Linked DNA regions of Homo sapiens. The protein of the gene in region 1 interacts with the protein of each later gene in a pairwise test. Each region holds a gene or a part of one and is shown on either strand. Other genes may lie near its edges. The genes, in order: HNMT and CAMK2D.

Region 1 (3,830 bases):
AAACACTGGGACAGATAAAATGATTATCCTTTAAGCAGAGCCCAGAGCAAGGAGAACACATTGGCCGTGACTGCTTTCTGGAACATGTTTTCAGGTATAAATATATGCACTGTAAATTAATAGCATTCTCTCTTACCAAAAAGAATATGGGTTTCTTTTTTCCCACGTACCATCTAGCATGAAGACAACACTCATTAGAGGTTGAATAATAATGAAAACCCCCATCAAGAGGTTTAATTTAAGGAAGCACCAATGTTGATGGACCCAGAAGCATGTTCTATGAGATTTAGAATATATGCATTACTCTCAAAACCTAAAAACAATTGCAGAAATTAACAACATGAATACTTCAAGACCCTGAATAAAGCAATTCTGGCCACTCATTTTGTCTCATTAAAGCACACAAACTCATATACATGAACATACATGCATAACTTTACACTTCCAAGTTTGGTCTCTGTAAAAGCTACATGGTCTGTTTTTCTGTTCATGGTTTGTTTTCCTCTCTTTCTTCCTATTGGGTTCATATAATATTTATTTCATACATTTTCCTAACATTAGAATGTGTAATCTATGGATAACAGTGTTATTTACCAGTTATAATTTATTGATATGGTAGATGACTCAGAGTCATCTACCTTTCTTTTGAACTTCTCAGAGCCCTAATAATTGCTTCGCATCTAAACTGAAGTGCCAAGCACCTTTGCAAAAACCTCACAATCTCTCTTAAACTATGAAAACTCTTTCCACACAAACACCAGACTCAAGAGGAGAGGCTAATCGATAGGGCATATGTGCATCCCCTCCCTGCTCATGTTTCTGAAAAAAATCAAATAGACCACCCCCCCCCAAAAAAAACCATGAGAATTAAGTGGTATAAAAGTAGCAGTTTCATCTAGGAAGGCTTTTAGCTGGTTTTCTTTTGTGTGTTTTTGAAGCACGGTGGGAGAAGTGGTAGCACCATTATGAATGCTTAGAGAATATTTGCACCAAAGCCATGTGCCTATCTATCTGTGCAAACAAGGAAAGAAACTTGAGGTAATAAAACCTGTAAACTAAGACAGAAATGGGACCCTATGAGATACATTACAGGAGCTGAGCACAAAGGAGTGAACAGGATCAATGACCTCATTTGCTAGGGACTGGAGTTTAATGAATGATTTGGAAGGATACTCAAGCCATGGGACAATACAAAACTCTCAGGCACCCTGTAGATCTTAGAATATGTGGGGAGACCATTTCTCTAAGGCAAGGATAGAAAGTTCCTTGCTGTATAGTAATGCATTGTTCTGCCTGATGCTTGTAGTCAGGCCATAATAGGTGATTAGATAACCATCTCCCAGTTGCTACATGAGCACTCAAACTAACTGAAGTAGAGTGTCCTTTCCCCTCAAAACACTGTTCTTTCAAGCAACAGACACCTAGACCTAGGGATTTTAAATGCATTGCTTTTGATTTCATATAACTTAGTTGGGTAGTGAAAGCTAAGTATATATAACTTAAATTTTTCTTGGAGTTTTTCTTACATTTCTGATTGATTTCTTATGAAAAGTGACCTTAAAGGGCACCCACATTCTCCCCAAGGTGGAGTTTGTTATTAATACATTATTAGGGCTCAGTCAGAAGAACTCCAAGAGTTGTTCCCTTTATTTTGTTAAGTTCTCTGTATTAGCTTCCATGTGCACCTTTATGTAAGGACTCACTGTGCAGGCCAAACGTTCCTTTCTCTAGATAGCTTATAAGCATCTGGATAAATTTGCATTAGAAATTCAATTAACTTTATATTAAAAGGTCAATTAACTTGGCCATGATAGAGATTGTTTTTAATTACTTTTTCTTGTAGGCCTTCTCTTCTTGTCCAAGCACAAGTGACACTATCAAATGATAGTCTCATTGCCTGTTGGTTGCCTGAAACTCATATCCAAAACACACAGGAAATAACTGTCTTGGTTAAATGAATTAATAAGACATTCTTTAGACAATTCATAACTATTATAATTTTGGGGACTTAAAGTATAACCAATAATAAAGTATTTTAGCTTAAATACCCTCTATGGTATTGTTCATGACAATTCCCTTCATTGTCTGTCTTTGTTGGTTTCTATTTTCTTGGTGAAAGATGATAATAAAGTAAAATGATTTTAATGATTAGTTCTTATTACACTATATCACAGTGTATTTCATGAAAAATTAACAAATAATGACATTAACAATTAGTGATCTCTGTCGGGCATGGTGGCTCATGCCTGTAATCTCAGCACTTTGGGAGGCCGAGGCAGACAAATCACCTGAGGTAAGGAGTTCGAGACTAGCCTGGCCAACATGGTGAAACCCTTCTCTACTAAAAAATACAAAAATTAGACGGGTGTGGTGGCAGTTTCCTGTAATCCCAGCTACTCGGGAGACTGAGGCAGGGAGAATTGCTTGAACCCAGGAGGCAGAGGTTGCAGTGAGCCAAGATCATGCCACTGTACTCTAGCCTGGGCAACAGAGCGAGACTCCATCTCAAAAAACAAACAAAAAACAAAAACAAAAAATCAGTGATCTCATTTCATTAGAGAGCTCTTAGTTATCTTTGTGTTAATATGAGCCACAGTTCAACTCATTCATGGGGCACTAGAACACTTATACTTAAGAGGTTCAAGGGATTACCACTTGGCATTAAGTTACAAGTGACAATAGTGTCCACTTGATATCGAGTTGTAACCATTACTGAACTATCACTCAGACAAAAGAAAATAACTAAAGATAAATATATAAATAATATATCTACATATTTTATATATTAATGCATTAACCCAAACTTCCAGATGACTTAAAAATAAGGCAAACACTGTTCAGGAGTTGATATTAGGAAAAGTCTTGAGATGAAACTTATTTTACTTTTGCAGAAGGGAATAGCCTTCACTCTCCAGGAGCAATAAGAATGTCCTAAGCACTTTGTAAATGTTACCTATATCACTCTCACTACAACCTTATGAGATAAAATTCATTGTTCCCATTTTACTGATGTTTTAGCCAAGATCATAAATTTCACTGGAGGCTGAGTTACCTGTGTCCATCTACCTTTCCAGACTTTAAATTTTCCCCTAGAATGAAAGCACTGGATCTAAAAGTAATGACACTATAAAATGCCTATAAAAGTATGCTTAGGGCTGGGCATGTGACTCATGCCTGTAATCCCAGCACTTTGGGAGGCCAAGGTGAGTGGATCACAAGGTCAGGAGTTTGAGACCAGCCTGGACAAGATGGTGAAACCCCGTCTCTATTAAAAATACAAAAATTAGCCAGGTGCGGTGGTTGGTGCCTGTAATCCCAGCTACTCAGGATGCTGAGGGAGGAGAATTGCTTGAACCCGGGAGGTGGAGGTTGCAGTGAGCCAAGATTGCACCACTGCACATTTCAGCCTGGGCGACAGAGTGAGAATCCGTCAAAAAAAAAAAGGTGCTTAGGAGTTATCTGAATGCTAGAGGTAATTCTAAGCATTCAGTTTTGGAACTGAGTAAGAGGAAGGGAACAGATTAGGCCCATGCCACTCAAAGAATGAGTTCACAAGAATGTAAATTAACTCTGTCACTGAGCACATTTTTCCCCATGGTGAGACTTTCTCAATGAAAAAAGCTGTGCATCAGTTTATATTCCAGTGCACATTTCTTTTTTCTTTCTTTCTTTCTTTCTTTCTTTCTTTCTTTCTTTTTTTTTTTTTTTTTGAGACGTAGTCTCGCTCTGTCACCCAGGCTGGAGTGCAGTGGCGCGATCTCGGCTCACTGCAAGCTCCGCCTCCAGGATTCACGCCATTCTCCTGCCTCAGCCTCCCGAGTAGCTGGGAC
Region 2 (3,830 bases), on another chromosome or scaffold:
TGAGGAAGAACTTTGTCAAAATATTTGGACCTTAGTGCATTTTAAAAACATAAAAATTAAAATATTTCTGCTATAGAAATGATTATTGCCTGTTTAGTTGAATTATATTCTCAAATATCTATCACATAATTTTATATTATATACCAACAATATTTTGCTGTGATCACATATCAAATAGAACATTATCCCACTATACCAGTTTCTGGGTTTTGTTTTTTGTTTTTGTACTGTTTGGGATACTATGCAAGCTTTCATTTGAAGAATGAGTTTCACAATTGAAAAATTTGAAAATCATAATTCTAATAATATATTTAATTTATAATTAGAATATTTGAAAGTAGATATATATATATACATTCATAAATTAAGTTCAGAATCTGAAGAGGAAGGCTTTATCTACTTTCTCTTTATGGCTTAACTTTGTGTTTATGATATAATTTGCTCTCCTTTGATACATATTCTTGTAAATATGATTTACCACTTTCTCAGGTTTCCCCTCATACAGCCCTATGGAAATCCATGTGCAGGGTCTGGGCATGCTTTCCATGTGTTATTAAGTAGAGTAACTACAGAGTAGCAATATTGGGTTCACCTTTTGTGCACAAGTTGAAAGCTCAATGTGAAAGTGAGAGGAGAAGATATAAAATGTCTTTATTATATTCTATAATGTCTCGTGAACTCTTCAATGCATTTCTGATAAAAATTTTCTATTTAGATGGATGTGTGTGTCAGCAAGAATTAAAAATGTATATTCTTTGAATTTCAAAGCATTGCATTATTCCTAGACTAGTAATTGGAACAAATTATTATTTACATGGCAATAGCTAGCACATTCACCATCTTTACAGACTAGAACCAGCCCCTCTCTGGGCAGACGTAGCCCTGAAAATGCACTGCTTGGTATACCTAGAGGAATGCTTTCATGAAAATTAGAGAACTGAGGAAAATGTTCACCTTTCTTCATGCTGAACCTACCGCTCATTTGCTATCAGAAGACCTGTACAACATTAAGAAACAGCCTCGTGTGTTTCTTTAACAGCTCCTAATAGTTAGCAAGCTTTTACAACTGCCAAAGATAAGCTTCAGGAATTAAAAAATGGCAATTGTTTAGCTGGCAAAAATTACAGATATTAGAGTCAATATCATTTTTCTCATGCTTTATTATGCCAGTGAGTCACAAGTTCCCCATTTTAAAACTACTAAAAATGGACTAATTTAATTCCATGACACAGTGGCAATGGCTTTATTTTTCAAGATTGTCCATACAAATTCATGAATTGGGAAAATAACCTGATATTCTATCATTTTGCAACTAATGTGGTGTAAATTTCCCTTCATCGTTGAAGGACAGTATTTCTACTAAATATGCTAATCATATAAAAGTAAGTTAAGTAATTATCACTACAAAAAATAATGTAAAGAAAGGAGAAGTAGCTTTCTTATATAGTCTTAATATAAAAAAGTATTAGTAATGGGAAGTTATAAGATTTGATTACTTTCATATACTTTGGTGAAATTTGTAATTGGGCAGATTAAACTTCTTGAAGGGTTAAAATGAAATCTTGCTGAAGCTCCTGTAGTCTCAGATTCTTCTCACTACAGCACTCCAAGTAGCCCTGATTAATAGGTCAGTTTTGGCACAGGAATTGAAGCTGTTTTATTACCTCTGCTATTACTGCTTATGAGTTGTGAAAGTATATAATACCTCATTTTGAACCTTGGCATAATATCATGATGACATTGGTACATGTAGCAACCTGTTTGCTTTTATTAAGTTTTGCAAATAATTATGAGAAAGATTGTATAAAATTTCATTTTCAGATCAAAGCAGAGATACTTTGAGAAGAATAGAAGATTCTTAAGTTCTTTTTTTCTGAATTTTAAAATGTATTTACCATATGTGATATGCAGCTCAGTACATATGTTGGTCCCTTATCAGATACTCTTTAATATATATAGTTGTCTACATAGAGGGGGAGAATAGATCTAAATGGTTTTATTTATTTTAGATACAACTTAACTTATATAAAAAGTAAATTTATGAAGAAATTCACTACTTGAGGGAATGATTCATGTAGTTGACTCTTCCCTGTTTGATCGAGTGTGTCTATTTTTTAAACTTTTTATAAATTTATATTTTTGAAGTTTCCATCACCAGAATGGGACACGGTGACTCCTGAAGCCAAAGACCTCATCAATAAAATGCTTACTATCAACCCTGCCAAACGCATCACAGCCTCAGAGGCACTGAAGCACCCATGGATCTGTGTAAGTAAAACTTCTCCAAAACTTCAAGAACTAAAATGAAAAATAAGCTCTCCTTTAATATATTGTTTATGGATTTAAAATAGCTTTGCAAAAAAAGATGAAACTCAGAATGAATGAATTTTTGACTCGAGGTGTTTAAGAAAATTAATTTTATGATGGTGAAAAAATGCAATTTTCAGTAGCAAAGTCTGAATTGCATAGATTCTTAAATAAATATTGCTTGCAGTAACAAAAGGAATGAGTATTCTCCATATCAATTATTAACAATACTCATGAACAAGGTTAAGAAAATAACACCAAAATTAAATGTGTCCCAGAAGAAAAGATTTAACAAAGTTCAATTATTTATCATTAGGCAACTTTAGAAACAAGTATGAAGTTTGGCAGCTGACAGTAGAGTTTCAGTGGCGTAAAATAATGGTCATAGTAGTCTGAATATATTTTAGAAATATTAAGAAGAATAGTGTGAAATTTGAGGGGGATCTGGAGACTTCAGTAAATTTCCAAATGTGTCAAATGCTAAGGTGATAAATGTGGCACTAAGTAAATGAAAGGCAGCTCAATCAAAATGTGATTGAAGACATTAAAATAAAGATAATTTGAGAAATTATTAATATTCATTTCTATACTTTCTGGTTTGGTTTTGTTTTGTTTTGAGACAGAGTCTTGCTCTTGTCACCCAGGCTGGAGTGCAATGGCACGATCTTGGCTCACTGCAACCTCCACCTCCCAGGTTCAAGCAATTCTCCTGTCTCAGCCTCCCGAGTAGCTGGGATTACAGGTGCCCACCACCACGCCCGGCTAATTTTTGTATTTTTAGTAGAGATGCGGTTTCGCCATGTTGGCCAGGCTGGTCTCAAACTCCTGACCTCGTGATCCACCCGCCTTGGCCTTCCAAAGTGCTGGAATTACAGGCGTGACCCACCGCGCCCGGCCCATTTCTATACTTTCTATACGTCAGTGTTGCATCTTGGTCACAAGTAGTCTTGGCAAAACTAAAATTTTATTTTTAGGTAACTTTGGCAATTGAATACTTAGAAGTTGATCCTGCAGGTGCAGCACCATTAATAAATATTTGATGAAGTCAGGGACATTATTATACTTAGTGTGTTTTAAATATTCTCAATTAAGTTACTTTTTCTCCTCTTCTTCTAGCAACGTTCTACTGTTGCTTCCATGATGCACAGACAGGAGACTGTAGACTGCTTGAAGAAATTTAATGCTAGAAGAAAACTAAAGGTAAGAAATTTTACATTTTTATGGGGAGGTAGATTTGACAGACTAAGAAGTGAAATACTGTGTGAGGAAAATAACTTCTAGCAAAGGCTTTCAATTATGTAGACCTCAATACTCTCATTATTCTTTTTGGGGCTCTTGGGAAATGGAATATACACCAGAATCAAAACTATGGTGAAAAGCTGGAATCATCCTGGCAACACATGCTGTGGATCCTTCCTTCAGTGGAAAACAGCTGTGCAATTTGATAATCAGAATCTGGCCCGCACACTAGGGCCGTCCCAGCATCATGAGAGACAAAGGCCTTTGACTCTCAGGAAACCAAA

Evidence for each region.
Region 2: the proteins of HNMT (region 1) and CAMK2D interact in a two-hybrid assay, tested with the Homo sapiens proteins (one large-scale study listed by BioGRID and IntAct).

Annotation. Positions count from the first base shown.
Region 1 is NC_000002.12:137,970,800-137,974,629, reverse strand, and holds part of HNMT (histamine N-methyltransferase), read right to left. Parts: intron 1-3,830. UniProt on the Homo sapiens protein: Inactivates histamine by N-methylation. Plays an important role in degrading histamine and in regulating the airway response to histamine.
Region 2 is NC_000004.12:113,513,507-113,517,336, reverse strand, and holds part of CAMK2D (calcium/calmodulin-dependent protein kinase type II subunit delta), read left to right. Parts: intron 1-2,145; coding exon 2,146-2,268; intron 2,269-3,423; coding exon 3,424-3,507; intron 3,508-3,830. UniProt on the Homo sapiens protein: Calcium/calmodulin-dependent protein kinase involved in the regulation of Ca(2+) homeostatis and excitation-contraction coupling (ECC) in heart by targeting ion channels, transporters and accessory proteins involved in Ca(2+) influx into the myocyte, Ca(2+) release from the sarcoplasmic reticulum (SR), SR Ca(2+) uptake and Na(+) and K(+) channel transport.